Regions from separate parts of the Homo sapiens genome. Here all the other regions are linked to region 1. The links come from fine-mapping of genetic effects on gene expression. A gene starts in region 1. Each other region holds a variant in brackets. All regions are shown on one strand. Distances are from middle to middle.

Region 1 (5,102 bases):
CTTGGCAGGTGTGGCTGTGAAGATGTATCGAATGTCCCCAGGACTCAGCACTTGAAAGTACAAATAATCATGGATACGGAAGCCTGAAGGATAAAGAGTACAGGTAAGAAGCCTCCCAGGAACAAGCTGGTTCAGGTTCAGATCCCAGACCCTGTGTCTTCAGCTGGGCTGGCTATAGTCTGGGCTCAGGGTCCTGGCTTCAGCCAACGGGGTCCACTAGTGGCAGGGTTGGGGGCTAGATGGCCTCTGTCCTGGGGAGGATAGAGTTGATGCAGAGTCATTAACCCCAGAGGCTTATATCAGCTGCTGCTGCTGCTTACGCAGTAAGCCAGGAAAACTGAGAGCTCCAGGGTTAGTATTTTTGCTCTGAAGACCTGGGAGTTTCAGGGTAGAGATGTAGTGGCCTGCGTACAAAGCAATTCTCACTAAAATTTAAAAGTTGACTTTCTGGTCCCACTGCCATCCCCTTAAGTCTAGTCACTATCATCTCTTGTCCTGACAGCTCAGCTTCTTACCTGGCCTCCCTGCCTCCATTCTTGCTCCCCAAGCAACAACCAGAAATCGAAAACATCTTAGCAATTATGAGCACATCACCATACCTAGGGTTTCAATAACTGCCCTTTGCATTTAAAATTTAAACTCTTTTTAAACTGTGGCCTACAAGACCCTGTTTGCTGTGGCCCCTGGCCACTCTTCCAACCTCATCTCCTCCATCCTGTGTTCAAGCTACACTGGCCTTTCAGTGTCTTCACTTCTCTGGGTCTTTCTGCAGGCTGTTCCCTGAGCCTGGAAGGCCCCCTACTCCCACGCCACCCTACTTCCACCCCTTTACCTGACTCTTTCCTAGTCATCCTTCAGGTCACACCTTAAATGTCACTTCCTCAGAGAAAGCTTCTGCCTCATGATTGCCCTCCCATACCCATTCAAATGTACTTTTTAATAAATGGGGACTTTCAACATAATTTGTAATTATACAGCTTTCATAACTTTTCTTTTTTTCTTTTTTTGAGACGGAGTCTCGCTCTGTCACCCAGGCTGGAGTGCAGTGTTGCGATCTAGGCTCGCTGCAAGCTCCGCCTCCCGGGTTCACGCCATTCTCCTGCCTCAGCCTCCGGAGTAGCTGGGACTACAGGCGCCCGCCACCACGCCCGGAGAATTTTTTGTATTTTTAGTAGAGACGGGGTTTCACCGTGTTAGCCAGGATGGTCTCTATCTCCTGACCTCGTGATCCACCCGCCTGGGCCTTCCAAAGTGCTGGGATTACAGGCGTGAGCCACCGCGCCCGGCCTCTTTTTCTTTTTTTTGAGACAGGGTCTCACTTTATCACCCAGGCTGGAGTGCAGTGGCGCCATCTCGCCTCACAGCAACCTCCACCTCCCAGGCTCAAGCGATTCTCATGCCTCAGCCTCCCAAATAGCTGGGACTACAGGCGTGCGCCACCATGCCTGGCTAATTTTTTTTTGTATTTTTTAGTAGAGAGGGTTTCGCCATGTTGACCAGGCTGATTTTTTTTTTTCATTTTTTAAATAGGAATGGGGTCTCGCCTTGTTGCCAGGGCTTGTGATCCTCCCACCTTGGCTTACCAAAGTCCTGGGATTACAGGCGTGAGCCACCGCACCTGCCCTGGATTCATAATTTTTAAATATCTGCCTCTTCCACTTTGTAACTTCATTCAGTGAAGAGTCACCAGTGTCTTGCACAGTGGCTACAATATAGGGATAGCCCTATAAACTTTCCTGAATGGGTGAACAACTATATCTAGCTCCACAGCACCGATGAAGAGAATTTCCAGACCACTAGATTTTTCTGGGGCATGGGATCTTCTCCTCAGCACCAAAGTTTAATGTTGTACCTGGACTTGAGTCCCTGGTTTCCTTAACCCAGAGAGACTGCGGAATGTTGAAAGATAAAAACTGCTGTCATGGGCGGGCGCGGTGGCTCACGCCTGTAATCCCAGCACTTTGGGAGGCCGAGGCGGGCAGATCACGAGGTCAGGAGATCGAGACCATCCTGGCTAACACGGTGAAACCCCCGTCTCTACTAAAAATACAAAAAAATTAGCCGGGCGTGGTGGTGGGCGCCTGTAGTCCCAGCTACTTGGGAGGCTGAGGCAGGAGAATGGCGTGAACCCGGGAGGCGGAGCTTGCAGTGAGCCGAGATCGGGCCACTGCACTGCAACCTGGGCGACAGAGCAAGACTCCGTCTCAAAAAAAAAAAAAAGAAAAAAAGAAAACTGCTGTCACAAGTCTGTTAGTCTATCAACAAACTACCAAGTCACTACTGTGTACCAAGGATGGCATTAAGGCTTTAGCTGTCTTTGTTTACTGCCCAAATCACAGCCATCAGTTAGAGCTCCCATGGCTTGGCACTGGGCTATACAGTCCTGGGAGTGGGGACTCCCTCTCGGATACAAATACACCCCCAGAAAGCCTTCCTGGACTAGCGTCAAACTCACTCCCTCCTCCCCAACCCTTGCTTGCCTTTGTGTGTGCTTATTTGTGTAAGTTGTGGGTATACGTATGTGCTCACTTATGTGCATAGATGTATACATTTATGTGCTTGTGTAGGTGTAAACGGTTTGTGCGTGTGTGCCCACGTGTAGGAATGTGTGCTCCTGTGTACATGTGAATGCTCACATACATATCTCCAGCCTGTAGTATCCTTCCTTAGCTGTCCCTTCTGGTCGCACCCTAAGTCACCTGGGTCGGCGCTAGTGGGCGGGGAGGGGCGAGTGGGGAGATCTGCTTTGTCGTGGGAAGGTGAGGAGTCAGAGCTTCAGCCTCAGGCTGCGCCCACTTTATGTCCTTGGACCACCACCCACTTATTCCGGCCGCCCGCTCCCAGACCTGTCCTGCTCTGAACTCGCAGGGTCCCCAAGGTGACCCTTGGCCCCCAACCCGAGACGCGCGCAAGCTGGACGGCCAGCCCCGCCCTGCAACGCAGTCCCACCCGTTGCCGCTCACCGTGGGCCGCGACGCACGCGGGGAGCCAGAGCACGAGACAACACCAGCCCGCGGCGCCGGGGACCATCTCCAGGGCCGGGCCCGGCCCGGCGCCGCGTTTCCTCTCGCCGCCCCGCCGCGCGTCGCTCGCAGGACTTCAGCCTGACAGCTGCTCCGGCCTCCCGCCCACATACCCGCTCTCGCCGCGGGCTGGACGACGGGAACGAGGCTCAAGGCTGATTGGCTCTGACGCCTGCTCATGTAGCCACACTTTCCGCCTCTGCGCCTTAGCCTACTTCCTATTGGTCGAGAGAAGTGGAGCCGGGGGCTGATTGGCTTAAACTCTTAACAGCTACAACCGGCCTTCGCCTCAGCCCCGCCCCAGCATACTCTCCGGGTCCTCGCTGGCGGTGGGCGGGCCAGGGAGGACAAGCACTGGAGGTGTGCCCGTAGCCGGACTTGCTTCAGCTGTCGATAGTCGAGGCCGTTAACCCTTGCGGTCTCGGTCCTGTCCACTCCAAGGCCGCCTCGATTGACGACGATTAGCCTTCTCCCAGCTGCGCTTCCCTCCTCCCAGCTGCGCTTCCCTCCTCCCCACGCCTTCACGGGAAGGCACTCGTCTTGCGCCAGGGGGTCTTCCGCCCAGTGCCACCAACGCTTGCGCGCTCACCGTGGATAGGCGCTGGGGCCGCGGCCTGGCGCACGCCATCCACGAGGAGCCTCTGGCCAGTGCAAAGCCAGAAAACGGGCATTGGGGGCAGCTTCCCACGCTCGTCCCGTTGACACTGACTATGTAACTGTGACACTGGACACCTTGACCTCTCAGCCTCCTTTCTGTCATCAGTAAAATGGCCTTAATAGGACCAACGCAATAGGGTTGTGAGGATTAAATGAGATCGCTCACGTAAAGTGCTTTGGCACCAGCCTATCCCACACTTTGCGTCCCACACTTTTGCCTTTATTGCATTCCTTGGTCTGGCGTCCGGGGATGGAGGAGGGTGGAATTAAGTTAGTAGGTGATGCGGGCCGAGCAAAGACCCTCCGTGCTCTAAGAAGCACGACCGAAATGCGGCGACCCCTCTTTAATGAACGCCCCTCACTAGAGAGTCCCCGAAGCCCAGCCTCAGGTCCTTCTAGCCGCACCGAGTCGGTGGTAACGAACCATAGAGTAGCGGAAGTGGTCCGTTCTCTTCCTCTCCCGGCCCAAGCTTCTGGGTATTTCTATTGCGCGAGGCATTGTGGGTTGCTGGGCGGCCCGGTCTCGGAGAAGAGGGGAGAGTGGCGGGCCGCTGAATAAGCTTCCAAAATGATGGTGAGTGGCGTCTCGCGCATCCGTCGCCATCAGCTGCCATCTGGCCGGTGGCCGGCGCCGCTCGGCCTGGGCTTGCTCTGTAGGACCCTCTTTTGCTTGCCGCCTCTGTCCTCGCCCAGATCCCCAGCTTAGGGGCGACCCCAGCCAGCCGCGGCCTGGCTCGGCCCGAGCACGGCGCTGGAGCCGTTGGCGAGGGCTGCGTGGGGCTTTAGAGGAGTCTCTGGGCTGGCCGGTTGGGGACTACAAGTCCCAGGGTGCTTCGGGCCCGCGAACCCACGTCGGGGACCTCTTTTTTAGCCCCGCATGATCGGGACTTGCGTGAAACGAGTGCAGGTCGGCCGTGGTTACGCGGTCGGCAGCTAGACTTGGAAGCTGGGGCTGCTCTGAGATTTGCGGGCTGTAAAGACGTGTGCTTCTTGGAACCGGCACAGGCACATTGGGGACCTCATATTGTGCCCGCCTAGGGACTCACTATGTTCACTCGCTGACCCTCACCGCAGCGTGCAGAGAAGCAGACGCCTTCCCTAGTACTTTTAATTCATTCACTCATTCGCTCAGTCATTAAATAAACGCGTCTTTAGTGCCTACTGAATGTACCAGGCCCTGGTGGTTGCTGGGGGTTGCAGCCTCTCAGCCAGGAGAACGGGAAAGGTAGATGGAGACACTGTATCGGAGGTGGGAAGACCCAGGCTCGGACTCTGGTGACATAAGAAAGGCTTTTCTAGTTGGCTACCTAACTCTGGGTCTCGTTTTCTTGAAATTTGGGGCGAGGGAGTTGCTGTGAGTCCTGGAGCCACCTAAAGTGCTCCTTGTAGCCCTACTTCCCACACTTCTTTTCTCTGTCTCTC
Region 2 (5,102 bases), 53 kb before region 1:
CCAGTTTTCCAGCTCAGAGGGCTGTGCGCAAATTTAGCATCTGATTCCATCTCAGGGTCCCTCTGCGAAGGTCTTTAGCCTCCCCCCCACTTTTCTTTCAAAGAAAGGCGGTATGTTCAGTATGGGCTGGCAGGTTTGGTCTAGGATAGGATCCCTCATCCCTTAGAAAGACGTAGGGGCTTGAAAGCGCAGTAGGCTGGTCCCTGGGGCACCTGTGCCCAAGCGGGCCTCCTCTCTGGAGTGACGCAGGGACTCCCCACTCATGCCTCACTCTGGCTCCTGGGACACCCCCAACCCAGCCCCTGGGAGGCGAAGACGCTTTGTAACCAGCCCTCTTCTTGGAAGGTTATGAAGTCCTATGCTATTGGTGCTTCTGAACTGACCAAGCCACTTCCCCGCTCTACGCCTTCTCTTCTTCACCCTCCCCTAAGTTCCGTAGTGAGCTGCTGGGACTTCCAGAAGTGACCGGCTCTTCCTCCTGGGAGGAGGGGCGGGGAATGTTTGTTTCTTCCCCACAGTTAGGAAGCAGTGACTCCACCAGCCCGAGCGCAGCGGTAGTCAGCGCTCGACAGTGTCCCCGTTCCCCACCACCACCCATCCTTTACCGCCCCCGGGGCACAGCGCCCTTCCCCCTCTCCCCCGTTCCAGCTTCATTTCCCGTAGCTTCGAAGCTCCTAAGGAGTTAGGATCATCTTGGCGTACAGATCCCTTCGAAGCACTGATCCCTCCGCTCCTTCCCGGCACAGCCCCTTCCCGGCACGGCCCTTTCCCGCGCGATCTCCCGCTCTAGAGACCCGCGGGATGCGTCCCCGCCCGCTGCCGGGAGGTGGGGCGCCAGCATTGTACAGTCTGCGCGCGCCCCCTGCTGCTCGCCGCGAGAAATGACGGCCTACGTCCGCCGGGCCCTTCAGCTCCTCGGTTCCGGGCGCCCCCCACCGTTCACATCCCCGCGCGTTCTCGCGTCCTCGCTGGGACTGCGCCCAGGAGCCGCAGGCACTTACAAAACAAATTGCTGCCTCCATCACTGGGCTCAGTACCACCTGACACTATCACCCCACTTTTCAGGGGACCTCAGTGACGTTCCTGCATCAAGCAGCAGGACTGGAGCCCAGGTTTCCCAAAAGGAAGTCCAGACTTTTACAAACCATTAATGAAGGGCTTAAATTCTCCAGGGCACTGTACCCCTCGTACAGCTCTGTGGAGACTGAGAAAATGGGGTTCTGGCACCCAGGAACCTGGACCCCCAAAACAGGCACAGGCCTAGCTCTGTGCTGGGCAGTGCTGTGAGTCACCTGTTCTGCCCCTGGGTGGAGTATACCCAGGCAGTAGGCACTGACAGGTTCCATCCCAGCACCAAACCCAGGAATGTCCCGGTCAACTGCGGAGCACCAACCCCAGCAGTTCCAGAAGCATCCCTTCCTCCAGGGCTGCGGCTGTAAGAGGGGAGCTGAGGCAGTGCGTTCGCTGGGGAAGGAGGGACAATGCAAGGTCAGGGCCAGAGGAGCCTGGAGGGATGAGAGGGTGCCCCCCCCCTTCTGCCACTTACTAGCTGCGTGACCTGGACTAGTTGTGTTACCCCTGTTTCTGAGCCTTGTGTTCCTTATAAAGATTGGTGATTTTTCGGCGGGGTCGGTGGCTCCTGCCCGTAATCGTAGCACGTTGGAAAGCCGAGGAGGGCTGACTGCTTGAGCCCAGGAGTTTGAGAACAGCCTGGGCAACATGGCGAAACCCTGTCTCTCCAAAAAAAAAAAAAAAAAAAAAACAATTAGCCCGGCATGGTGATGCGTCTTGTAGTCACAGGTACTAGGGAGGCTGAGGTGGGAGAATCGCTTGGGAGGCTAAGGGAGTATGGCTTGACTAGGAGGTCAAGGCTGCAGTGAGCCATGTGATCACACTACTGCACTCCAGCCTGGGTTGACAGTGAGACTCTGTCTCAAAAAAAAAAAAAAAAAAGGGGGGGGGGGTGTTGTGATTTTCATAGGTTGTGGAGAGGATTAAGGGCTACAATTTTGCAATATCTAGCATATAGCAGATGCTCCATTAGCGGTCTCTGAAGCAGCCCTTACCTCCTTCAGGGATCTCCAATCAACTCCCAGAACTGCCTGAGTGTGGCGGTCAGCCCAGAGCAGCAGGTGCTATCCTTTGTAGCACTGTTAACCAAAAACTGGACACAACCAAATATCCACTAACAGTATAACTGGATAAACAAAGTGTAATATATTCATCTTTGGAATAC[T/A]CTATAGCAATGAAAATTAATAAACTAGGGTTATGTACATAAAACTTGCAAACAGTCTGAGTGAAAGAGGCAAGCTGAAGCATTAGTACAGTATGATACTACATATATGAAGTTTTTTCTTTTTTAAATTTATATTTATAATTTTAATAAAAACATTTTTGGAGACAGGGTCTCACTATGTTCTCCAGGCTGGTCTCAAACTCCTGGGCTCAAGCAATCCTCCTGCTTTGGCCTCCCAAAGTGCTGGCATTACAGGCATAAGCCACCGTGCCTGGCCCCATATATGAAGTTTAAAAGCATACAAAATACTTCTATAAGCTACTTATGGGTCAATAAATATGGAGGAATTGTATGAGTCTGTGAGTGTAAATAATACCAAATTAGATTTGGAGGTGACTCCAGCAAATAGGACTGGAGAGGGGTACAAAAGGCCCCATATGTGTCTGCAATGTGCTTTTATTTAAAAAAAAAAAAACTCATGTAAAAGTGGCAAAACCTACAGTCAAGAATGATGAATGGTGAGTTCTTGAGTACTTACATTTTTATCTATAACTTTCTTGGTGTTCGAAATATTTTATTATGGTTTTAAAAAAAGAAGAAAGGGGAGGAAAACCATTGGTCACTGATAGTAATAGATCCTCTGCTTTTGGCAACTTGGCCCACTCATCTTCCTGCTTGACCAATTCTCCTCCATCTCTGAGCTTATCCATTCATTTTTCTTTTCAAACTAGAACCCACATGCAGATGACTCCCAAATCTATATCCAGTCCAGACAACTTCTGTTATCTAACTTCTGGTTAGGTATCTCCACTAGGATGTTTCTCAGACACCTCAGACTCAACACAAGCAAAACTCAATTGATAACTACCCCCTCCAACTGCCTGTTGCCTACAGCTGGAAAGGCATGTGGAGAGAAGATACACACCCAATCATCTTCCTGAAGCTTTTGAATACTGATGATAAAGAAAAAAACCTTCCAAACTTTTTAACAACAGAAAGATTTTCTGCAAATAGTTAACCTGACAGCCGACTTTTCATCTGCAACGTGAAATACTAGAAAACAGCTATTAGAAGCAATGAAACTTCCATGCATACAGCACCAAAGAGAGACTTTAAAAATAGTTTTAAAAAAGAGATTTATACACAATACCATTTATGTAAATTAAAAACAAATACAGAACAGCCCTGCACATTTTACATGGATCCATAAATAATAGCAAATACACAAGAGAAGGGCTTACTAGGAGAGGAGGAGGAAATAGGGGGAAAGAGAAAAAGCCAGAATGAAGAGTGGGGTCTAGTGTGGACCTCTGATGGCAATGCCCACAAAAGAGCAGGAGAGAATATCTCAGCCCTCTGCTTCTGAGATCCAAAATTTAAAAAAAAAATCGTTTAAAAATAGGGGATGGGCACGGTGGTTCATGCCTGTAATCCCAGCACTTTGGGAGGCTGAGGTGGACGGATCACTTGAGACCAGCCTAGCCAACATGGTGAAACTCTGTCTCTAATAAAAATACAAAAATTAGCTGGGTGTGGTGGTTGTAATCCCAGCTACTTGGGAGGCTGAGGCAGGAGAATCGCTTGAACCCAGGAGGCAGAGGTTGCAGTGAGCCAAGATCGTGCCACTGCACTCCAGCCTTGGCGACAGAGCGAGAATCCGTCTCAAAGAAAAAAAGGTGTTCCTAAATGCAGAAAAAGGTTGCGCATCACTGAAGTAAATGATGAACTAAATATAAGATTTGGAGGTAGGCAGGTAGGTAGAGGAGCTTGCCAGAGTGCAGGTATTTATGTTTGCTTAGAAAAGCTACAAGTTTTTCACTTCACAGTTCATATGGAACCAAAAAAGAGCCCACATTGCCAAGATAATCCTAAGCCAAAAGAACAAAGCTGGAGGCATCACACTACCTGACTTCAAACTATACTACAAGGCTACAGTAACCAAAAGAGCATGGTGCTGGTACCAAAACAGAGATGTAGACCAATGGAACAGAACAGAGCCCTCAGAAATAATACCACACATCTACAACCATCTGATCTTTGACAAACCTGACAAAAACAAGAAATGGGGAAAGGATTCCCTATTTAATAAACGATGCTGGGAAAACTGCCTAGCCATATGTAGAAAGCTAAAACTGGATCCCTTCCTTACACCTTATACAAAAATTAATTCAAGATGGATTAAAGACTTAAATGTTAGACCTAAAACCATAAAAACCCTAGAAGAAAACCTAGGCAATACCATTCAGGACATAGGCATGGGCAACTTCATGTCTAAAACACCAAAAGCAATGGCAACAAAAGCCAAAATTGACAAATGGGATCTCATTAAACTAAAGAGCTTCTGCACAGCAAAAGAAACGACCATCAGAGTGAACAGGCAATCTACAGAATGGGAGAAAATTTTTGCAATCTACCCATTGGACAAAGGGCTAATATCCAGAATCTACAAAGAACTTAAACAAATTTACAAGAAAAAATCAAACAATCCCATCAAAAAGTGGGCGAAGGATACGAACAGATACTTCTCAAAAGAAGACATTTATGCAGCCAACAGACACATGAAACAATGCTCATCATCACTGGCCATCAAAGGAATGCAAATCAAAACCACAATGAGATACCATCTCACACCAGTTAGAATGGCAATCATTAAAAAGTCAGGAAACAAGGGGTGCTGGAGAGGATGTGGAGAAACAGGAACACTTTTACACTGTTGGTGGGACTGTAAACTAGTTCAACCATTGTGGAAGACAGTGTGGTGATTCCTCAAGGATCTAGAACTAGAAATACCATTTGACCCAGCCATCCCATTACTGGGTATATACCCAAAGGATTATAAATCATGCTGCTATAAAGACACATGCAC
Region 3 (5,102 bases), 92 kb before region 1:
ACAATACTGCCCCTGACTTCAAATGCCAATCTCAAGTAATGGGTCCCCAGGTTACCCACACTTCTGTGTGACTTAGCTACAAGTGAGGGTTTCCTACAACCACCTATTCAGATTCAATAATCTGCTGTAATGGCTCGCAGAACTCAGGGAAGCACTTACATGTACGGTTTATTATAAAGGATACAACTCAGGAACAGCCAAATGGAAGAGACAGGGTATGAGGAGGGAGGGGCACAGAGCTTCCATAGCCTTTCAGGCCTCGCACCCTCCCAGCACCTTAATGTGTTCACCAACCTGGAAGATCTCCAAACCCTGTCATTTAGGGTTTTTATGGAAGTCCCATTATGTAGGCATGATTTATTAAATCATTGACCTTCTGTGACTGACATTAATCTTCAGCCCTTCTCCCCTCCCCAGAGGTCAAAGAGATGGGGCTGAAAATTCCAACCCTCTAATTACAAGGTTGGTTCCTCTGTCAACCAGCCCCCATCCTCCAAGAGTCACCTCATTAGCATAAACCCAGGTATGGTTGAAAGGGGCTTATTATGAATAACCAAAGGTGTTCCTCTCACCCCTATCACTCAGGGGAATCACAAGACTTTTAGCAGCTCTGTGCTAGGAACCCGGGGAAGAGACCAAATATATATTTCTTGTTATGTCACAGGATTGCATTAAATTTGCAGATCCATTTGGGCAATATTACAATATTGCTATCTTAACAATAATAGTTTATCTGTTTTGTTTTGTTTTTAGAGATGGGTCTTGCTATGTTGCCCAGGCTGGCTCAAGCAATCCTCCTGCCTTGGCCTCTCTAAGTGCTGAGATTACAGGCGACAACAGTAGTTTGTTGTTGTTTCTATATACAGGATCACGTCATCTGTGGGAAAAAAAGACAGTTTTACTTCTTTTCCAATGTTGATGCCTTTATTCTTATTTTTTGGCCTTATCACACTGACTTGAATCTCCAGGACAATGTTGATTGAAAGTGGCAAGAGCTGACATTCTTGCCTTGTTCCTGATCTCAAGGAGAAACATTCAGTCTTGCATCATTATATGTAATGTTGATGGTAGGTTTCAGTTAGATATGCTTTATCAAGTTAAGAGAGCTCCCTTTTATTCCAAGTTCAAGGGTTTTTTTTTAACCATCAATGGATGTTGGATTTTGTCAAATGTTTTTTCTGCATCTGTTGAGATCATATGATTTTGTCCTTTATTTTATTAATACAGTGATTCATCTTAATTGGTTTTCAGATGTTAACTCAACCTTGCTTTCCTGGGATAAAGCCCACTTGGTCATGGTATACGCTTCTATGTATGTGTTGCTGGGTTTTATTTGCTAATTTTGTGCTAAGGATTTTTACATCTGTGTTCAAAAAGGATGTTGGTCTGTAGCTTTCTTTTCATATGATATCTTTGTCTTGAATCAGGGTAATACTGGCCTCACAGAATGAGTTCGGAAGTGTACTTTCTTCCCCTATTTTCTGAAATAATTTGTGAAAGATTGGTATTATGTGTTTTTAAATTATTTGATAGAATTCACTAGTAAAGTGTTCTGTGACTGGGTTTTTCTTTGTGGGGAGATTTTAAGTACTAATCCCATTATTTACTTGCTATAGGCCTATTCAGACTTTATTTCTTCTTGAGTCAGTTTTAATAATCTGTATCTTTCTGGGAATTTGTCCATTTCATCCAAATTGTTCAATTTGTAATATTTCCTTGTAATTATTTTTGTTTCTGTGTGGTCAGTAGTGATTTTGTAATTTATGTTTTCTCTTTCTCTTGGTCAGTCTAGCTAAAAATTTCTCAATTTTGTTAACCTTTTCAAAAAACAGACCTTTTGTTTTATTGATTTTTCTCTATCATTTTTCTGTTTTCTATTTTTTTTTTTTTTTTTTTTTTGAGACAGAGTTTCACTCCTCTTGCCCAGGCTGGAGTGCAATGGTTCAATGGTGCGATCTCAGCTCACTGCAACCTCTGCCTCCCAGGTTCAAGTGATTCTCCTGCCTCAGCCTCCTGAGTGGCTGGGATTACAGGCATGCGCCACTACATCTGGATAATTTTGTATTTTTAGTAGAGACTGGGTTTCTCCATGTTGGTCAGGCTGGTCTCGAACTCCCGACCTCAGGTGATCCACCCGCCTCGGCCCTCCAAAGTGCTGGGATTACAGGTGTGAGCCACTGCGCCCGGACTTCTGTTTTCTATTTCTTATTTCCACTCTAATCTTTATTTTCTT[T/C]CTGCTGTTTGCTTCAGATTTAATTGTTCCTTCTTTTTCCAGTTGCTTAAAGTAGAAGCTTAGATTGTTGATATGAGACCATTCTTCTTTTCTAATCTAGGTATTTATAGCTATACAGTTCCCTTAAATGCTGCATTTGCCGCATCCCATACATTTTGATACGTTGCATTTTCTTTTTCATTTAGTTCAAAAGATATTTAATAATTTTCCTTGTGATTTCTTCTTTGATCCATGGATAATGTAAAAATATGCTAATTTCCAAATATTTGGGGATTTCCCAAATTTCTAGATACTCACAACCCACTATCAATGTAATATTGTCCAGAATTTTAATTTGGGATTCTTATGGGTTTGCTTTCCCTTTGTCTTTGGTCTTAAGTCTGCTGCTGTTCCTGCTGTTGTTGTTTAGACAACAGAATATGTTACCAATGTATTTAATCACCTTTATTTAAATATTTCTTGCAAAGTCTCCTAGGTTTTTCTTCTTGAGTATTTCCTCCAAAATGTTTTTAACTTTTTTTAATTGTAAAATGTTTCTAGAAAAGCAGAAAAGATAGTACAATGAACATCAATACATCCCTCCACCTAGATATAACAATTGTCAACATCTTTAAAACAATTTGTTTTATATATTAGGTTAAACCATTTGAAATTACTCCATTGACCTTTGAATGCGGCCTTGTTTTCTGGCACTCCAGGGATGGTTTTCAATGTGGTTCTTTGTAAGGCAAGCATTTTAAGGCCTCGTTGCCTGCAAATATTTATTTATTTATTTATTTATTTATTTATTTGAGATGAGATCTCACTCTGTCACCCAAGTTGGAGTGCAGTGGCACAATCACGGCTCACTGCAACCTCCACCTCCCAGGCTCAAGTGATCCTCCTACCTCACCCTCTCGAGTAGCTGGGACTACAGGTGCACACCACCACACCCTGCTAATTTTTGTATTTTCTGTAGAGATGAGGTTTTGCCATGTTGCCCAGGCTGGTCTTGAACTCCTGAGCTCAAGAAATCTACCTGCCTTGGTCTCCCAAAGTGCTGAGATTACAGGCATTAGCCACTGTGCACCCCCTGCCTGAAAATATTTTTATTTTTACCTTTTCACACTTGAATGACAACTTGGCTGGATGTAAAATTGTAGGTTCAAACTTATTTTTCTTTTTTACTTAAGAAATATTACTCCATTATCTTCTTACACCCAAATGTTGTTGTTGAAAGGTCTGACGTCAGTCTAATTCTCTTAGAATTTCCTGTTTGGTATTCTTAAATTTCACCATACTATATCTTATGCGGGTTTTCCCTTCTCTCTCTTATTTTCTATGCAGTAGGCCCTTTCAATCTGAAGTCATTCATTCTTTCTAAATATGAAAAATGTATGTCTATTGTTTCTTCAAATGTATTTTTCCATTCATTTTTATTGTTTTCTTCTGGATTCCCATTATATGAATGTGGGTATTCTGCTTCTAGTCTCCTTATTTCTTAGCTTTTTCTTCCTCCTCATTCTTCAGTGAGTTCTTCTTGCAGTTTCTCAATATGATATTCTAATTTACTTTTCAACTATTACTTACTAATTTATTTGTTCTTTCTTTCCATTATCTTTTTCATACCTAATATTTTCATTTGATTCTTTTAATTTTTTTCTTGTTCTTGTTTTACACTGCTCATACCTTACTTCTCATATCTCTCGTGTATTTATAGAGCTGATTTGTTTTTGTTGTTGTTGCTGTTGTTGTTTTTGAGACGGAGTCTCACTCTATCGCCCAGGCTGGAGTGTGGCGGCATGATCTCAGCTCACTGGAACCTCCACCTTCCAGGTTCAAGTGATTCTCTTGCCTCAGCCTCCCGAGTAGGTGGGATTACAGGTGCCTGCCATCACGCCTGGCTAATTTTTGTATTTTTAGTGGAGATGGGGTTTCACCATGTTGGTCAGGCTGGTCTCGAACTCCTGAACTCAAGTGATCTGCCTGCCTTGGTTTCCCAAAGTGCTGGGATTATAGGCATGAGCCACTGTGCCTGGCCTATAGAGCTGATTTGAAATTGTTGGTCAATTGATACTAATACTCCTGCCCAGTCCTGCTGCTTCTGGTGTCATATGTTGTGCATTCCTTTTTTCTTCTGGTTTAGTTTTGCCCTTCAAGTGTCTCATTATTGCCCTGTAATGCCCTTTGGGGAAGGCAGAAGGCCACTCCTTAGTATCTACCAGTCTGTTAAGTTCAAGGAGAGGATGAGGACTCGGATCTTGAGTGGAGCACCCCAGGCTCTGCACAACCACAGGTTTGTTCTCATCCTGCCCAGGGGCCTTGGTTTCACTTTCCACCCTGTGGCTAGAAGGAAGCTGTCTCCACTGATGGGATGGGCCAGGCTGGTGATTTGGAGGGGAAAGAGTGGAGGGATTGCTCAAAAATGGTTGTTCCCTAATTCAACTCCTCACCCTGGCAGGGATCTACGCTGCCCTGAGTTCATCCCCATGGACATCCTGACCAGCGAGTGGTCTGAGCCTCTGCAGTTCTGCCGTGAGGGCAAGTGATGACTGGCCAATGCAAAGGTGCAGGAGAGGCAAGAGTAGAGAGTCAATCACTATTCTCTTCCTTCATCCTTACCATCATAGCCACCTCCCTCAGGCTGCAACCACCCCCCACTCCCACATGCAGGCACACACTCCCCAGTTCTAAACAGCCTGTCAGCTCCACAGGAGTTTCTTCTCTGTTGTTATTTCCTGGCTTTCATGTTTCCCTCTATAATTTCTCTTGTGTTTAACCTGGGTAGGGAGCCAACAGCCCAAGCAAAATCCCATCTTAGCAAAAACTGGAGCAGCCAAGAGAGGCCTATTAGTCAACTTGAAAAAGAGATAGATAAATAAATAAAGAG
Region 4 (5,102 bases), 30 kb after region 1:
AAGGAGGGGGAGGTGGGGCAAATACTTGGGGACAGAGGGCTTCAGGGACTGGATATGTCGTGAAGTCGGGGGAGGTAGAGGAAGATCAGGCGACTGAGAAGGGCCTGGAGGTCATGATTCTGGAGGCTGAGCAGTTAGTTCTGGTGGTAAAGTCCAGGGTATCCCATGTGGCTGAAGGGGGAGGAAGGTCTTGGAAAGAGGGTCAAGGCACCTTGGCGCAGTTGGCATGGGGTCCTCTCAGGAGCCAAAGGGTCCTGGCTGGTGGTCTCCTTGGGCAGGAGCAGCCCACACTGGGTGCCAGGTCCTCAGTGCAGGTGGAGTAGTGACTGAGAGTGGAGTGGGTGGTTTGAGAAAGGTGTGGAAGCCAAGGAGGTATGATCTGGAGTCCAGGGAGAGAGGAGTCTTCACCCTGAGAACTGTCCTTGGGGGGGCTTCCATATATCATCTCATTTAATCCTCTCACCCATCCTAGAAAGTCAGCTTAGAAGATGGGAATACAGGACTCAGAGAGGTATAGTAACTTGCCCAACATCACTCAGCTAATAAGTAGCAGAGCCAGACCTGGGACCTAGGTCAGTCAGGCTCTAGAACCAGTGCTCTTAACCTGTCCCCCTGCCTCTGCCCTTGGCTGGAGACTCTGATCCATCTGCCCCAGTGATAGTTAGGATACCTGCTGACAGGGCCCCGTGGCAGGTGATAGTCGTACCCTGCCCCTCATTCCCCCAGTGCTCACTGTTGAAGTGCAGTAGGGCCTTAGGGGTGACGGGAGTCGCCGTGAGCACCAGCATCTCCAGTCCCTTCAGGCCTTCCCGGCAGACCTCTGCTGCCACCTCCTGGGTGATCTCTGACACGTGGTCAAGCTCCAGGACCTGCAGCCGCATGCAGTTTCTCGCTAGGAAGAGGAAGAAGGGGGATCCTGCTGACACACTCCCCAGGTCACCCCTGCAGCCAGCACCCTGGCTACCACCCTGCCACCTGCCACCACCCAGGCTGCAGCCCCAAGCCCCTGTGGGATTTCACAAGGCAGCACTGCACCCATGCCTGCTTCCCACTACCCACCACCCCAGTCCAAGGAAAGACTCACCGAGTGATGCCAGGCCCTGCACCCCACAGCCGGCACCCCCGACCCCCAGGGCCCGCAGGTGGGGCCAACAGCGACCAATCATCTGCAGGCAGCGGTTACTGAAGCGTGTGGGCTGCTGGCTGGAGAATGGGAAGGGGGAGCCGTCAGGGAAGTCTCTGGATGCTTGATAACCCAGCATGCTCCTCCTGTGGGACCCCTCCCTGACTCAGGCAAGCATTCCTCCAACAACCCAGCAGGTCAAGTCAGAGAACCAGGATCATCCCTGACTCCTCTGCCCTCATCTCATCCACCAAGTCCTGCAGATTCTGATTCCCAAGCACTCTTTTTTTTTTTTTGAGACAGGGTCTCAATCTGTCACCCAGGCTGGAGTGCAGTGGTGCAATTTCGGCTCACTGCAACCTCTGCCTCCTGGGTTCAAGCAATTCTCCTGCCTCAGCCTCCCGAGTAGACAGGACTACAGGCATGCACTACCATGCCCGGCTCATTTTTTTGTACTTTTAGTAGAGACAGGATTTTACCATGTTGGCCAGGCTGGTCTCAAACTCCTGGCCTCAAGTGATCTGCTGCCTCGGCTTCCCAAAGTGCTGGGATTACAGGTGTGAGCCACTGCGCCCGGCCTTAAGTACTCTTGAACCCACAGTTCAGACCACCATTGGCATTCTCTGGGTTAGCACTAGTCTCCCTGCATCTCATCCTCCACACTGCAGATAGGGAGCCCCTCATTCCTACATCCACTCACTCTGCCATTCAGCAAGTGGTTATCAAGTCAACAACAACTGAGCTAGGCCCTGGGGGTACAGCGGTGACAACATAGACATGGTCTCTACCCTCAAAGAGTGGACAGTCTCTTTGGTGGCAGAAGTTGTGGGGGGCATAGAACATTAACAGTCTGATCTTAATCCCTTTCTTAAAATCTAAAATCCCGCCAAATAGCTTCCAATACTTTCTAGATAAAATGCAAAAAAACCTAAATTCCTTAGCAAGGCCCTTCCTGATTGCCCCAACTTTCCTTTCCATTCACACCAAATGCCATTTCCCTAAACATTTCAACCCTCAACATTTGCCCAGGCAACAAACATCTCTCTGGCATCTATTATGCATTTGGTACTAGGGATACAGAAATGGACATTCCTAGATTCTGCCTTGAGAACAACCCATCTGGTGGAGGAGATAGAAATATAAAGAAATTATTGCAAAGTAGGGCTGGGCGCGGTGGCTTATGCCTGTAATCCCAGC[A/AC]CTTTGGGAGGCCGAGGCGGGCAGATCACCTGAGGTCAGGAGTTTGAGATCAGGCTGGCCAACATGGTGAAAGCCCGTCTCTACTACAAATACAAAAATTAGCTGGGCATGGTGGCCCATGCCTGTAGTCCCAGCTACTTGGGAGGCTGAGGTAGGAGGATCGCCTGAACCTGGGAGGTGGAGGTTGCAGTAAGCTGAGATTGCACCACTGCACTCCAGCCTGGGCAACAGAGCAAGACTCTGTCTCAAAAACTAAATAAAAAAAAAAAAAGAAATTATTGCAAAGTAGATGACAGAGGGGTCAGGGCAACATGCAGTGGGGATTGAGGCAGGGGAGCAGTGACACACTCTACCCAGGGTGTTACAGAAGGCACACTGGATGACTGGGAGGAGCTGTCGCGTGGAGAGAGGCAAAATGTAGGGAGCAAAAGAGCCTGGTGTGTTAGAGGAACTCCAAACAGAGTGAGAAATGATTTCATAACCTGGATTCTCCAATGACCAGCTCTTTCATACACTGACCTCCCTGAACCACCTTTCATATGTCAAACAAAGCTGGTGGTTTTTAGCTGGTGTTTACTGAACAATTACTGTGGACCCTGCAGGCTTTGTGTACCTGATCTCATTTGGGCGAGCAACAGCCCTAAGGTCCATAGTTCCTAATACCACCTTTACTTTGCAGTTTGAGAAACTAAGACATGATTGAGATTGCCAAGGTGGCACTGCCAGTAAGCCAGGACATGACCCCAGGTCTGATTTTATTTATCTATTTATTTATTTATTTATTTATTAGACGGAGTTTCCATCTTGTTGCCCAGGCTGGAGTGCAATGGCACGATCTCGGCTCACTGCAACCTCTGCCTCCCAGGTTCAAGCGATTCTCCTGCCTTAGCCTCCCCAGTAGCTGGGATTACAGGCATGCACCACCACGCTCGGCTAATTTTGTATTTTTAGTAGAGACAGGGTGTCTCCATGTTGGTCAGGATGGTCTCGAACTCCAGACCTCAGGTGATCCGCCCGACTCAGCCTCTCAAAGTGCTGGGATTACAGGCGTGAGATACCGTGCTCGACCAACCAGGTCTGATTTTAAAGCCCTGCTCCTAATGCCTCAATGGACAGATTAATGTGTGTGGATCTGTCCTAATAGCTTGTGGAATGGGCTCAGATCTGCTAAGTCCTCAGCCCCAGACCAGGCCCAACCGTGTCCCCCCTCCTATCCCCCAAACCTGCCAGGGCTCACCAGGGGTGAAGTGGTGCCACTTGGAGGGAGACGATCTCTCTGCAGCCTGCGCCCAGGGCCCAAATGACCTCATGGCCCACGGGGTCTGTGGCACTCCTGTGAAAAGACAAAGCTGCTAGTCAGGCAGCAGGGTGGCTTATACTGGTAATCCCAACACTTTGGGAGGTCAAGGCCGAGGTTGGGGATCGCCTGAGCCCAGGATTCCAGACTAGCTTGGGCAATACGGCGAGACCCCGTCTCCATTTAAAAAAAAAAAAAGAAAGAAAGAAAAAGAAAATATACAAGACAAAGCTGGAGTCGCCCACAGTGGTGGCCTCTGCTCTTGCCAAGGCTTCCTTTCCTTCAGCCATAGAGCTCTTGGATCCCTTTGCTTGAGAACCCTGGGGGAGGCTATGCAGCACCTAGGGATCCGGTAGGACCCTGGGCTTAGAGGGAACAGGCCATGCTTCTAGTCGGTTGACCCACCTGTACGTGACAGCCTGCAGGGCACGGCAGTAGCAGCTGGCCAGCCAGAGCGAGCGGTCGGTGAGGATGTTTGGACAGTGGGAGATGCGCAGGATCAGCAGGTTCCCCCCAGCTGCCTTCAGCAGGGACTCCAGCCCAGCTTCCAGGCAGCCCCTGGGGATGACCAAGAGGTCAGAGAGCTGGCAACCTCCTCCTCTGGGAAACTTAATTCCAGGTCTGTGGCCCAACAGCACCCACCACCCACCCATCGCAGGCCTCACCGGGTGCTCCGGGCATACTCCTCCTTGCTCTCCTTCTTTCCCCGCTGCCGGGGCTTCAAGTTCTGCAGCGTCAGAGAGTGGGCCTGGGTGCACCACTGAGCCAGCATTGCCAGGAACTGTGGGGGAGGGGAAGGACATTTGGAGATGAAGGGGTCTGAACTTGGTTGGCTGGAGGTGGGCCAGCCCCAGGATAGAAGGCCCCATGAGAGCATTTCAGGGAAGCCAGGTTGGCATTACAGTGTTGTAAGGGTTGCAAGGACCAGACCTCAAGGGGCCAGATTCTACCCAGGGGGAAAGGTGGGTTCACAGCAGGGCACAGAAGGCAGGCAGGGGCAGGTACCTTGGAGCAGACACGGGCATTCTCAAGCAGCACCCTTGTCCAGACTGCGGGGTGGCGGGCCACGAAGCGCCAGTCCCGGCAGACCTCGGCAGCATGCAGCAGTGTGCGCGTGTCCAGGTAGGTGAAGATGCAGAAGAGGGCAGCTCGCATCTTCAGGATCTCTGGGCTGATGACCTCATTGGAGCGTGAGGGGCTGACCCTCTCTGCTCGCCGACCCCGCCCACTGCCTCCCTCGGGGCGGGCTGCAGAATACCAGGGGTTCAAAAGTGAGCGTGGAGGGTCAAGGCTGGTGTGGGGATGTGTGTGGGGAGCTGGGGCAGGGTAGGATCTGCAGAGGAATGGACATGCTGTGGTACCAGGGCCTAGGGAGGAAGGAAAAGGGGCCTCTGCCTCCCTGTCCTTTGCGGTACCCCATCTCCAGTTTTACAAATTACAAAAAGGCATCCCTTGTGTAAACTTCCTTTTTAAGGTTATATATCA
Region 5 (5,102 bases), 22 kb after region 1:
AGCCTGGCCAACATAGTGAAACCCTATGTCTACTAAAAATACAAAAAATTAGCCAGGCGTGGTGGTGGGCACCTGTAATCCCAGCTACTCAGGAGGCTGAGGCAGGAGAATTGCTTGAACCCAGGAGGCAGAGCTTGCAGTGAGCAGAGATCGTGCCGCTGCACTCCAGCCCGGGTGGTAGTGTGAGACTCCATCTCAAAAAAAAAAAAAGAGTATGATTGCTTCTTATGGTACCACAGGAGGAACCTTGCATCCACCTTCCTGGAAGCACATACTGACCACATGGAGTGGGCTTACTGGTGTGGTGAAGCTCTCCAGAGCCCTACAAGTGTGACCCTGGGCTAGTTACTTCAACCTCTCTGAGAGTTTAATTTCTCCATTTGTTAAATAGATAGAGGTTTGTTAAGTGCTTAGCACCCAGTGAATGACCCTGCTTCTGGCTTGTATTAGGACTTTTGCTTAAAGTCACTTTACCTCTGTGTCTCACTTGCCTCATCTGTAAAATCGGGCTATTTGAAGCAATGAGATGAAAGATGGGATAGTATTTTTGTTATTCCTGTTTATCTTGAGAACTCATTGTTTGATATATATATATATATATATATATATAGTCCTCAGGTGACCTGAGGATGGGGCCGCCCCAAAACACAACAGCTTGCCTGGGAGAAGATCCCAGAGGTCTTGTGTGGTATGTCCAGGGCTAAGGGGAGGAGTTGGCGGGAGTAGGGGTGTTTCCAGGTTCCTGGCATGCTCATAGGAAGATGCAGTATTCTTCAGCGAAATGCCACCAAGTTCAGAGAGTCTGCGGGTTCCTAGCAGTGTCTTTTGGAGTACCAGTTTACAAGAGGAAAGTTGAAAGTAGTTCCATATTACCTCCTTTCTTTTCCTACTCTTTTAGGGGGGTACATGGTATGGAGTAGACATCAACAACGAGGACATTGCTGACAACTTTGAAGCTTTCGTGTGGGAGCCAGCTATGGTGCGGATCAATGCGCTGACAGCAGCCTCTGAGGCTGCGTGCCTGATCGTGTCTGTAGATGAAACCATCAAGAACCCCCGCTCGACTGTGGATGCTCCCACAGCAGCAGGCCGGGGCCGTGGTCGTGGCCGCCCCCACTGAGAGGCACCCCACCCATCACATGGCTGGCTGGCTGCTGGGTGCACTTACCCTCCTTGGCTTGGTTACTTCATTTTACAAGGAAGGGGTAGTAATTGGCCCACTCTCTTCTTACTGGAGGCTATTTAAATAAAATGTAAGACTTCAGATAACTTTGTAAATTATTTTGGCATGGTACTCATAAATGTCTGGCTGTAGCTCAGAATTTTAGCTTTACATGCACTTGTCCAACAGGGAGACAAGAGCATCCTGGGGTGAGCTCCACTAGAGTGGCCCGTCTGGAAGTTTCACTGTGGTTGCATTCTTTGTTCCAGAAGTGGCTGGACAACACGCAGTTGCTTTCTTCTGGCATCATCTTATTTAGCCCTGGCCTAGCCAGACACTGCTCTCAGGGTTTCTCTGGTTTGAGTAAATGGGTTACATTACCTTGTCTGCCCCTTCTATCTCCATATTCTTTTGGTTTAGTCTTTTGTTCCCTCTTACTCAAGACTGTGAGAAGGGTGTTTTAGGGAGGGCTTATGCTCTCTAAACTCTAGTGATCCCTTGGAAGTCTACTAAGGAGACGACTGAAAGCACCCACCTAGTCTTTTCAGTTCAGCCCCCAGTGATCTTGGTCCTTCTGCTTTCTTGTGACCAATGGGAGTTTGGAATGGCTGGCACAGATGAGCTGGAAATCCAGCAGTGTCTAACATCCTCCTGATTTACACTGGTCCTGATAGCTGGCCTGCACCCTGCTGTAGTTGGTCGTTGTTAAAAGCTGGAGGTAAATGATGATGTCATTGTCAGCCATTGAGACTTGCTAGCTAAAACTGGGAAGTGATTTTTAAAAAAAATTCTCTGAACCCAGCCACTCCTGGTTAGATGGACTCTAAAGCACAGAGG[A/G]TGGCAGGCAGGTCCAGGCTTTGGAGTCTGGCATTCCTCCTAACTTGATGGTCTTTAGGTAGACTAATTTTTCTGAGCCTCTGCTATTCTACCTGTATGACAGGGTAAGAGTAGCTGGCTCAAAGAGTAGTGAGACTTAAATGTTTATTTTTATGTTAGAGACACAGTTTAAGCCTAAAAACACTTATTCTTTTTTCTGATTTTAAATATTTCAGGACCTGAGGAATCAAGTCAGGGGCAGAAGGACATTTTGTAAAATGAGGAAGTCAAGGCCAGGCCATGATGTCAACCTGGTCTCCCGCAGTCAAAGCCTGATTGGCTGGCCAGAGCCTCCTGAGTAGGCAGTCAAGCCAGGGAGGGGCTGGGCAGTGCCTGCTGCCCTGTTGTACTGGTTTTGTCCTTGAAGGTAGTCTCTCCTAGCTGAGAGTCAGAAATGATGTATCTCAAGGCGTTTCCTCTGGATACACACACTGAAAGCAGGGTTGAGCGGTGGCAGGACAGTCACCCTAGGTGGCTTTTCTGCAGTCCTGAGGCAAGTTTTTGTTGTTTCTGAGACAGGGCCTCACTCAGTTAACTAAGCTGGAGTGTGCAGTGGTGTGATCTCAGCTCACTGTAACCTCCACTTCCCTGGCTCGATATCCTCCCACCTCAGCCTCCCAAGGAGCTGGCAATACAGGCACATGCCGAGCTAATTTTTCAGTTTTTCTTGCAGAGACAGGGTTTCACTATGTTGCCCAGACTAGTCTCGAATTCCTGGGCTCAAGTGATTCTCCCGCCCCAGCCTCCCAAAGTGCTAGGATTACAGATATGAGCAACTGTGCCCGCTGGCAAGTCTTGTTATACTTCATTCCCCTGGGTTACCTGCCTCTCTGCACTTGAGCTGCAGAAAGACCATGATAACACAGATGATAAGTGTGGCCACATACCATTTACCTCTCTGGGGCAGATAGACCAGTTTCACCATCTTTTTTATTGGATACAGAGCCATAAATTCTCTGATGCCCATGTGAGTCCTTTTAAATACATACACTCAGGTACATTCAGCAAAGGGCATCTTACGGGTGACATGGAGCAAAGTGCTGGGATGGCGATGCCTGGGTGGGGCAGAGAAGTGTGGCCAGGGAAGGCCCCCTGGGGGCTGGAGGTACAGGCACCACTTCAGAAACAAAAATAAAACCAAAAATTGCTCTCCACCCCTCTGCCTGTGCTTGGGGCTGGGGAAGCTACCCTCTCACTCAGGCCCATTATAGCCTAGCTGTGTAGGAAGGTAGGGCCTAAGGGCCAGTTATGGAGGTTGCCCACCAGTGGTGCCCACTAGAACCAAGCCTGCTGGCATCAGCCACAAAGCAAGCCTGGGTCACCTCAGGCCTCTGCCCTGGATACAAGACCCTTGTCAGGGCAGAGCTGAGGCTGGCAAGCCCAAGGCCAAGCCTCCCTTGGGCCATGCTGGCAGTGGCAGAGGAGGCTTGGCCTCACGGTGGGGAGCCTGCCTGATTGTCAGGGCAGCCTTGGGACTGGCTGAGGTCCCAAGGGTTTGGGGAGGGAGTCGTTGCCTTAGCTGGCCCTGGTATTCTGATCTTTACCCAATCCTAAACCTTATCCTCAGGCAAGGGCTGCAGATGAACACACTTGTCCAGGAATACATACATACACACAATACACAGCAATATATACAGAAATGCAGGCCGGGCACAAGGCTGGGTGAGAAAGCATGGCCACTGGGTTGGAGAGAAGGGCCAGGCCCCCAGGGGAAGGAAGTTACACTCATCAGGGACTGACAGGCTGGGACAGGTCCCATGGGTTCGAGTTAACTTCTCTGGGCATTTGGGCCTTACACCCACTCACCATCTCCTGTTTTTACCCCAAGTCCAACAGGAACTGGGACTTTGGCACCAATAGTCACTCTGGGAAGGCCTCCTTCAACTTAGCGCCTTAGAGGGATTGGGGCCCGGGTGACTCCCCACTGGTGGCCCCAAAGATAAGAGACCAGGAGTGGGGAAATAGGCAGGACCCAAAGGCAAGGGATGGAGCCAAACCTTGGAGTAGCAGGCCTTGGGAAGGAGGACTTTTTTTTGTTTTTCTCTTTTGAGGCAATTCCTGAGGGGCTGGCTCAGACTCGAGTGTCACAGAACCAAGAAAACAGGAGCTGCCTTGATCCTTAGGTGGTCTCTCCTGGCTGGGGAAAGGCTGTGGTGCTGGGCTGGGCAGGCCACCCACTCTTTATTCCTGCAGGGATGCATATAAGTGCACCTTCATTTCCTGCCGGTGCTGTGGGGAAGCAGCCTGAATAAAGCATGAAGTACTTAAGCCAAGTACACCAACCTCCCAGGTAGGTACTGGGGCCAGACTGGATGGCAGGGGGTGGTAGAAACACCAAGTGGCCACCCCCACTGGGCCTCTACACATACCTGGGGCCCCTGGAGCAGGGCTGCTTGCTCTCAGATATTCCTTTCTTGCATCTTACTGGGTATGAGATGTGAAGGGATCCCGTTTGGGTGGGTAAAGATGGATGAAGTGCTTCTAGGGATAGCCAGGCCCTCTGTCCCTGTTCCCATCCTCAGCCCTAGCTGTATGGTCACCAAAAAAATCCATGCATAGAGCCTCCCAGCAAGCAAAAGCTCCCTACTCAGCAGCAGAGCTCATCCCCGAGGAGAGAACAAAAGAAGAGCGTCAAGGGGCTGGTGGGGCAGGGGCTGCAAAGCTGCCAGTGCTTGGGCATGCATGAAGGCTAGGGGGCACAAGTCTGTCAGCCCCAGGGTGCGTGTGCAATGGAATACTCTGACCTCTCATTCTTGCTGCAAAGGATTGGGCCTGCTCACACACATCCTTCACACACAGCCAGAACAGGGTGGAGGACTGAGGGGCTTTCCTGGAAATAGCCAAACCCATGGGAAGTGGACGTCCCCCCAGGCAGAAGGGTATCTTGTTCACCCCTCTGCCTCTAGTGCAGGTGGTGCTCAGTACTGTTGCACTAATGAATGAATGAGTGAGTGAAACTACAACTAGCATCTGTCCTTTCAGCACCACCTTTCTCCCACCCTAGCTCACTACCCATACACCCCAACCTCCTTTCTAGGGCTAATGCCAGGCATTCTAGTGTGTA

Alleles and levels. Alleles are on the strand shown, and positions count from the first base shown. SD is a standard deviation of normalised expression in the study named. Not every link is listed here.
For the expression in transverse colon of the gene that starts at base 3,109 in region 1, A is the low allele of the variant in region 2 and T is the other (small effect, 0.20 SD a copy in GTEx).

Evidence for each region. PIP is the estimated chance that this variant, and not a neighbour inherited with it, causes the effect.
Region 2: its variant is the best candidate, but not a certain one, in a credible set for the expression of PRADC1 in transverse colon (GTEx, PIP 0.86).
Region 3: its variant is the best candidate, but not a certain one, in a credible set for the expression of PRADC1 in whole blood (TOPMed, PIP 0.68).
Region 4: its variant is the best candidate, but not a certain one, in a credible set for the expression of PRADC1 in blood mononuclear cells (TOPMed, PIP 0.65).
Region 5: its variant is the best candidate, but not a certain one, in a credible set for the expression of PRADC1 in whole blood (TOPMed, PIP 0.64).

What each region holds. Positions count from the first base shown.
Region 1 is chr2:73,230,131-73,235,232 of GRCh38, forward strand. It overlaps PRADC1 (protease associated domain containing 1), which reads right to left and starts at 3,109. Exons shown (of 5, transcript NM_032319.3): 1 at 2,964-3,109; 2 at 1-83. The coding sequence starts at 3,030. It overlaps CCT7 (chaperonin containing TCP1 subunit 7), which reads left to right and starts at 4,178. Exons shown (of 12, transcript NM_006429.4): 1 at 4,178-4,254. The coding sequence starts at 4,249. RefSeq lists a silencer at 3,156-3,365 and enhancers at 3,653-4,184, 3,826-3,875, 3,996-4,065.
Region 2 is chr2:73,176,685-73,181,786 of GRCh38, forward strand. No RefSeq gene overlaps it. Among named protein-coding and RNA genes, the nearest start is that of NOTO, 23 kb to the right of the region's middle. RefSeq lists enhancers at 1-204, 205-878 and a silencer at 701-780. The variant T/A (reference allele first, on the strand shown) is at 2,237.
Region 3 is chr2:73,138,627-73,143,728 of GRCh38, forward strand. No RefSeq gene overlaps it. Among named protein-coding and RNA genes, the nearest start is that of RAB11FIP5, 28 kb to the left of the region's middle. The variant T/C (reference allele first, on the strand shown) is at 2,234.
Region 4 is chr2:73,259,656-73,264,757 of GRCh38, forward strand. FBXO41 (F-box protein 41) reads right to left here. Exons shown (of 13, transcript NM_001371389.2): 6 at 4,623-4,864; 7 at 4,283-4,398; 8 at 4,023-4,175; 9 at 3,558-3,653; 10 at 1,085-1,203; 11 at 734-892. Among named protein-coding and RNA genes, the nearest start is that of FBXO41, 22 kb to the right of the region's middle. The variant A/AC (reference allele first, on the strand shown) is at 2,321.
Region 5 is chr2:73,251,742-73,256,843 of GRCh38, forward strand. It overlaps CCT7 (chaperonin containing TCP1 subunit 7), which reads left to right. Exons shown (of 12, transcript NM_006429.4): 12 at 899-1,264. The coding sequence ends at 1,120. FBXO41 (F-box protein 41) reads right to left here. Exons shown (of 13, transcript NM_001371389.2): 13 at 2,949-5,102. Among named protein-coding and RNA genes, the nearest start is that of CCT7, 20 kb to the left of the region's middle. The variant A/G (reference allele first, on the strand shown) is at 2,000.